2 linked regions of the Homo sapiens genome follow. The protein of the gene in region 2 interacts with the protein of the main gene of each other region in a pairwise test. Each region holds a gene or a part of one and is shown on either strand. Other genes may lie near its edges.

Region 1 (3,745 bases), on a different chromosome or scaffold from region 2:
TCATTTTTATTCATAATGATTGAGCAAATGAAGTAAATCATTGTTTAAAAGGAGGCTAGGAAGAGAAACAAGTTGAAAATACTCATTTTTGTTTTTTTTTTTTTATTTACAGGATTCCTTAAGTCATCTTCCAATACTCCAGGTCACATGGTGAAGAGTCACCTGTTAAACACGAAATCTAACCATTAAACAAGCTTTTAAAATCCTTCGGTAACTCCCTTTATTAAAATTGTTTTCTTGACATACAGTACCTTTACAGGTATTACATTTCTCTTCACCGTTTACAAGCATTTTTCTCATGTTTTCCTTCACCAAAACATCTGCCCCGTTTTCTCAACAAGTAAAAATCTCAAAGTACTAAGTCCTAACATGATGTCTTATTGCACCTAATATGCTGGCAATACATTCCTCTCTTCAAAAGTTTACGTATGTTAGAATAAAAAGCTAAGTTAAGTAGGTTTTCTCTGGCTGTGTTTTCAGAAACAACACTAACTTTTACACGTGTTTGGGCATGAAACTTTAAACATTTTCCCCAAAACCTGACCCAATTCAGATACAAAACTACTGCTCAAATAGTAGAAGCCGCTAATCTTGTCTTTGGTTTTAATTTACATATTTTTCTGAATATCGAAATCCGTTCCTATAACCTAAACAAGGCGAATCCAAGTCACTGCTTCATACCCACATCTGTCCACGGCAAGCTTTTCCCGGACACACTCGGGCCTTTGAAAATGCCCACACTTGTTTTCATAAACCCACTCCTTCCTCTTCACCCACTTGCAATCCGCATGCTTCTCTGGGGCCACCCGGCCTCTCCCCTCTTTCCGAACCCTAGGGCCGACAGCTCGGTCTCTAACCTCCAGCGCGCCGAATCGGAGGGAGAACCGGGTCGGCGCCCCACGCCCCCGAGGCGGCGGCCCCGCAGAGGGAAGGAAGCGGGAAAGCGGCCGGCGCGGCGCCCCCTCCCCCGCACGCGCACACCCCCTTCCGGCACCCCTCCCCCTGCATTGTGCGAGCGGGCCCCAGGCCGCACCGGCCCGGGCACTCAGCAGGCCCTATCCGCCCTCCCGCTGGCGATCGGCTCCCGCCGAGGCCGCCGCACAAAGCCTGGGGAGCCATCCTCGACGGCGCCAAAGGACCGGAGAAAGAGCGAACGCGGACTGACTTACAGGGCTGCTGCGGCCGCGCTGCCTCAGCCGGGGACACCGACCGTTGGGCACACGGCGGCGTCGCTCTTGGCGGTCCTCCCCCTCCTCCGCCTTCGGTGGCGGCAATGTCTTCTTTCTCCACCTACCACCCTCCCCCCCCACCCCACCTCCTCCTTCTCCTCCCCCTCCTCCTCCGAACCACCGAAGTACCGAGGGTGAGACACAGAGACTCACAACAACATGGCTGCCACCGCCGCCTGCCCTCCCCTCCCCCCCGCCCACCGGGCGCGCGCAGTGCACCCCGGGAGAAAGGGGAGGGGGAGCGCTCACCAAGGCGCGGCTCCTTTTAATGCCTTGCGTCCCTGCTCCCGCGCTGCCGCCGCGCGGGCCGGGGGCGCCCTGCGCGTGCGCACGTTCTCCGCGCTCTCACGTGTTTGGCCGCCTCTCCGGCGTGCCCTCCCCCGCCCTCACCTTGCGGGCTCGCGCTTCCCTCCTGGGCTCCGCCGCGGCGGGCTCGGAGAGCGCAGGCGTACTGTTGCCAAACGCTGTGTTCGACTGTCTTCCCGCGTGGGGCCTCGCCTTCTGAATCTTCTTACCCTCGGCTTCCTACCCGGTTGCTCACTGTTTTCCCCCAACTGGGTGTGCGGGTGTCTGCGCCCGCGCCGCCCACCGTGGGGTACTCCTGGCATTTCGCTTCCAGAGTGCTGGCGCCCACAAGAGCCGGACGTTAATTCAGGCCTTTAACTTTCACTCTGTACCTCCCCACAACCAGACGAGGGAGATGCATCTGGGGGTGGAAGATTGTACCCTGCGAGAGGGCTGTCACTCTTCTCGTGGTTGCACCCCAGGCAGGTGGAGCCAGCTCTCAGCAAATTGTCGGCCCCCAGTGCTTGGTCCCGGTGCACACAAAGGAAACTCAGGTCGTTCTCCAGCTGGGCCAGTGATTCTCACTCGTTGGCTGTTTCTTTTTCTCGCGTACTAAGCGCTCTCTCCTTCCCCGTTTACAGGCTAGTTGGAAACTCCAAATCTGCCTTGCTGTCCTGGACCCCCATGCAAAGCAGTGGTGATTCCAGGATTCTAACCTAACCGGCTCCAGGTCACACAGCTGTAACAGGCACCGTGTCCGATTTGTTCTTGATGGTTTGTTTGCACAGCTCCTGGCTCTCCTGACATGCTGCACTTCGTAAATATTCAGGGCCTCCCGTATAGTTTGCTTAATATATGTCTTCCCTAGGCGACTGTGAGCTCCACGAGGGCAAGGACCTTGTGTTTTGTTTCACACTGTGCCCGCAAGTGCCTGTTGAATACACATGGGCTCTTCGGTTTTTAACTATTACTGAAAAATGTCTGACATTGAAATCCATCCCAAGCCCCTACCTTAGGCTCATATTTCAGGCTTCTAGATATTTTCACTTGAATTTTCTTGTCACCAAGCATGTTAAAAACTGAAGTCACACCCATCCCCTACCCCCCACTCTTGTACTGTCTCTGTAATTGGCAGTGTCACCACCTATTCATTCCCCAAATTACACCTCTGAGAACCATCCTTGTCTCTTCCTCTTACCCCGACTCCAAATATAAATAACTTACCAAGCCTCGCAGATTTTTACTTCCCAAGTAATTCTGGAGACAGTCTTCCTCTGCCTCCTCACTAATGCTAGCCTTGCTTCCCAGGTCTGGATTTCTGTAGCTGGCTCTTAATCAGCTTTCCTGTCTCCAGTCTCACTCCCTCCAATCAGTTCTGCTCACTGCTATCTAAAATGCAAATCCAATTCCTGGCGCTCAGGCCTCTGCTTCAACCATCTCATTGCTCCCCATCACCCACGACAGCATTTCCCTAGTGTGCTGTGTTCAGTGTTAATAGATGTTCCTTTAAGAAATGTCTCACGATCAAGTAAGAATGGGAGATGCTGGGGTGTACACATTTTGCCTTCCTTCTCCTTTCCCCTCCGTTGAGCTGATAATAGCAGAAGAGTCTTTATATACAGTTGCTTAGTGTGGGTGAAACTAGATAAATCCATCACAGGCCCTCCCTTAGAATATGGAATTGGGACTAAGAGACCCCAACCTCGAAAGTCTCTTGGACCTGGGATCCCTTGGGCAGACTGGTTCCATCCTGTAAGACAGGGAACCTGTAGAGAAAGAGTGGAGTTGAGAGAGAAAAGGAGAGTGCTGACAATGTCTCTCTTTCACATGTTTCTGTGCCTGGCTGGCTGCCTCTACCCTTGGAGTCTGAGCCGCATTCCTGGATCCTTATGGTAAATTCTGCTTCTTTGCTTAAGCTAGATAAAGTGAATTTCTGTTACAACCAAGAGTCCTACTAAAAGCCACGTGTAAGCTATAGTTATTTGTTTGGTACTAACAACATGCAAGCACCAAAGCACTTTCCATACATTGTCTCATTTAATGTTCCAGATATCCCCATGAACAAGGCCAGCTTCAGCACAGGCACGTGACCTGTGCAGTTGAACAAGGCCTGGGGGGTGCCTAAAAAGATTCTACGATTGGTTTAATGCTCTGATGTCACCATCTAGAAAGTCTTAGTGGTTTTTGACAAAAGGGCCCCTCATTTTCATTTTGAACTGAGCTCCACAAAT
Region 2 (3,745 bases):
CCCTTCCCATGCTGACATTCTGATTCCCTCATTCATTCATTCTAATATTAACCAATGCCAGCACTAGGTTCTGGGCATCCCCTGCTGAGCCATTCTAAACCTGCTGGGCACAGCCAAGACCTGTGAGTGTGGCCTCAGGCCTAGTGAGGGCTCATTGTTTCCACAGCCACTGCATGGTCCAGAGTGAGGAAGGAAAGCCCCATCTGCCCCATGAAGCCCACCCTGCCAGGGCCCACCTGCCAGGGGAGGCATTTTCCTGATCCCAGTTCTAGGTTTCATCCTAGAAGAGCCCTCAGTATCTAAAGCCTTTCCTACTTTCAATTTTTAAAAAAGTTGGGAAGTGTAAGACCACCTGCCATCTTCCTAATCAAAACTCATCTTCTGGCTCTTATTCTCCATGGCTTTTACACAACATGTTTTATTCATTTCAAAGTATTTAATTATAATGTTGAGGCCAGGTGTGGTGGCTCATGTCTGTAATCCCAGCACTTTGGGAGGCCAAGGCAGGAAGATCGCTTGAGGCCAGGTGTTCAAGACCAGCCTAGGCAACATAGTGAGACCCTGTCTCAAGAAAAAAAAAAAAGAAAAAAGAAAAATCAAGAAGAAAAAAGAAAGAGTGAGAAAGAAAGAAAGAGGCCAGACGCGGTGGCTCACGCCTGTAACACCAACACTTTGGGAGGCCAAGGCAGGCGGATCGCGAGGTCTGGAGTTCAAGACAAGCCTGGCCAACATAGTGAAACCCCGTCTCTACTAAAATACAAAAAATTAGCCCGGCATGGTGGCGGGCATCTGTAATCCCAGCTGCTTGGAAGGCTGAGGCAGGAGAATTGCTTGAACCCGGGATGCGGAAAGAAAAGAAAAAAAAAGAAAGAAAAGGAAGGAGGGAAAGAAGGAAGGAAGGAAGGAAGGAAAGAAGGAAGGAAAGAAGGAAGGAAGGAAGGAAGGAAGGAAGGAAGGAAGGAAGGAAGGAAGGAAGGAAGGAAGACAAAATATAACATTGAATACACGTTGTTTTTCAAACTGCACATACAACCCACATTTTGACTCAGGCCTCTGGGGCGAGGGGGTACACACACACACACACATCCCAGTCACTGTCCTAGGCTCTCCAGCCATGAGATTTTCCGGCCCAGCCCCAACCCCGACCTAAGTAACCGGCTATCGGCCACCCATTGGCTGAAGTCCCTGAGCACCTGTTGGGAGGAAGGCTGCTGCGTGCAGCCGGAAAGTCCTGCGTCCCTCCGCTCTTACCGCGGCAGGAACCACAGCCTCCCCGAACCTCAGGGTTTGTATGGATTTCGCCCAGGGGAAAGCGCTCCAACGCGCGGTGCAAACGGAAGCCACTGGCTGGTTGGGCGGCTGTGATGGGAGAGCTGCATCCTTCCAACGCGTCCAGCTTTTCATGCTGATGTTGGTGAGAAGGGGGTGGATAGCGGGGATTCTCAGGATTAGGGCCTAGGGCCATTAAAGGCTGGGAGGTGGGGGCGTAAACCTGTGGCCACCCTGACCCCTGTCCTCGGGGGGCCTCACCACCAGGCCGAGGAGACCCAGGCCTGGTCACCTGCTCCAAGCCCAGGCCCGGCGCTCGAATGCGGGCCCCAGCGGCCCTCCCTTCCCGGCCCTTCTCTCCCCTACTTTCTCCTCACCTCCCAGCTGCGCGGAGAACACGCCCCCTCCCCGTGTTCCCACCAATCAGCGTCCGGAGCGGCGCCCGAGGCGCCGGGGGGCTCTGGTCTGCAGCCAATGAGCGCCACGGCTCGAGGCGGCGCCTCGCCCGCCCCCTCCCGGAATGAAGGCCGCCCGACAGCTGGCGAGGCTGGCGCAGCGCGCGGGGCGCGGGAGCCGCGCGGGCTGGAGCGGAGCGCGCACACAGCCAGCCCGCCTCCGCTCCGCCTCCGTCCGGGGCGCGGGCGAGGTGGCCGGGGCGGGGGAACGCAGGGGGCAGGGCCGCGGCGGCGAGGCCGGGGGGCGGGGAGGAGTGGGCCCGATAAAAGGCGGCGCGGCGGCCCCACCCCGCGGCAGGCCGGCGGGCAGGCTCGGCGTGTCCCTTCCGTCCGGCCCGCGCCGGCGGCGGGGAGGCGGCGCGCGGCCCGCAGCCCGCCCATGGAGGCTTTCCCCTGGGCGCCCCGCTCGCCCCGCCGCGGCCGCGCCCCCCCGCCCATGGCGCTCGTGCCCAGCGCCCGCTACGTGAGCGCCCCGGGCCCGGCGCACCCGCAGCCCTTCAGCTCCTGGAACGACTACCTGGGGCTCGCCACGCTCATCACCAAAGCGGTGGACGGCGAGCCGCGCTTCGGCTGCGCCCGCGGTGGGAACGGCGGCGGCGGCTCCCCGCCCTCCTCCTCCTCGTCGTCCTGCTGCTCCCCCCACACGGGGGCCGGGCCTGGGGCGCTGGGGCCGGCGCTGGGGCCGCCCGACTACGACGAGGACGACGACGACGACAGCGACGAGCCGGGGTCCCGGGGCCGCTACCTGGGGAGCGCGCTGGAATTGCGCGCGCTGGAGCTGTGCGCGGGCCCCGCCGAGGCCGGGCTGCTGGAGGAGCGCTTCGCCGAGCTGAGCCCGTTCGCGGGTCGTGCCGCCGCCGTGCTGCTGGGCTGCGCGCCCGCCGCCGCCGCCGCCGCCACCACCACCAGCGAGGCGACGCCGCGCGAGGAGCGGGCCCCGGCGTGGGCGGCCGAGCCCCGGCTGCACGCGGCCTCCGGGGCGGCGGCCGCCCGGCTGCTGAAGCCCGAGCTGCAGGTGTGCGTGTTCTGCCGGAACAACAAGGAGGCGATGGCGCTCTACACCACCCATATCCTCAAGGGCCCCGACGGGCGAGTGCTGTGTCCCGTGCTGCGCCGCTACACGTGTCCCCTGTGCGGCGCCAGCGGCGACAACGCGCACACCATCAAGTACTGCCCGCTCTCCAAAGTGCCGCCGCCGCCCGCCCGCCCGCCGCCCCGCAGCGCCAGGGACGGCCCGCCTGGCAAGAAGCTGCGCTGAAGGCCCGGGCTCCCGGCCGCCCAGGGTCGCCGCCGCCCCTCGCACCGCTAGGTCTGCGCACCATCTCGCCCCCGCCGTGGGGAGGCGTGCGGCTCAGCGGTCGGCTCGACATGGGACGTCGTCCTGGTGGTTTTTGAAAAGCAGCCGACCGTGTGGAGTACTTCCGTGCTGAACGATTGGGACTAGACGCTGAAATCCCCATTTGTCTTCAGTTTCTAGTTTGCACATCCAGAACGGCGAAGGCTGGGTGTGTATTCCACTAACTGAAATATGGCAACTTAGAGGCGCTGTTTATTTACTGTATACGTCGACCTATTTTAGATGCGCATCAGTATGAAATTGTCTCAATCTTGGATGTTTCATTTTATGAATGGAGGCACTTTACTAGGTCTAGAATATTTTTTTAAAAGCCTCTGAACTGAGCTTAAAACTGGCGATTTTATGAAATGTCGGCAAAATGACTATTTTATTGTTTGAAGCGAGTTAATATTCTCAGTTGTCTTTAAAAATCAGTTACTCTAATTCCAGGTGAAGCAAGCCGCTGGTAGCATCACCCTTATGAGAAGTGAAGGTTTTGTAAACTTTCCAGTATTAATTTGGGCGGGTATTCCCCGCTTGTGGCTTGTTTCTGTCCTAGCTGGAGGTGTAAAATGCACAATGTGTAGCAGGTAGAATACAGCTCCTTATCGTTCTATGTACCAGGTATTTTATTACTGAACTAGCAACTAGCCTTTTCCACCTTTAAAAGTTGTGCCAAGTCATA

What was found. The genes of interacting proteins can lie anywhere in the genome.
Region 1: the proteins of NANOS1 (region 2) and PUM2 interact in a two-hybrid assay, tested with the Homo sapiens proteins (one study listed by BioGRID).

Annotation. Positions count from the first base shown.
Region 1 is NC_000002.12:20,349,428-20,353,172, forward strand, and holds the start of PUM2 (pumilio homolog 2), read right to left. Parts: upstream 1,418-3,745; 5' UTR 1,170-1,417; intron 1-1,169. UniProt on the Homo sapiens protein: Sequence-specific RNA-binding protein that acts as a post-transcriptional repressor by binding the 3'-UTR of mRNA targets.
Region 2 is NC_000010.11:119,027,699-119,031,443, forward strand, and holds the start of NANOS1 (nanos homolog 1), read left to right. Parts: upstream 1-2,015; 5' UTR 2,016-2,103; coding exon 2,104-2,982; 3' UTR 2,983-3,745. UniProt on the Homo sapiens protein: May act as a translational repressor which regulates translation of specific mRNAs by forming a complex with PUM2 that associates with the 3'-UTR of mRNA targets. Capable of interfering with the proadhesive and anti-invasive functions of E-cadherin.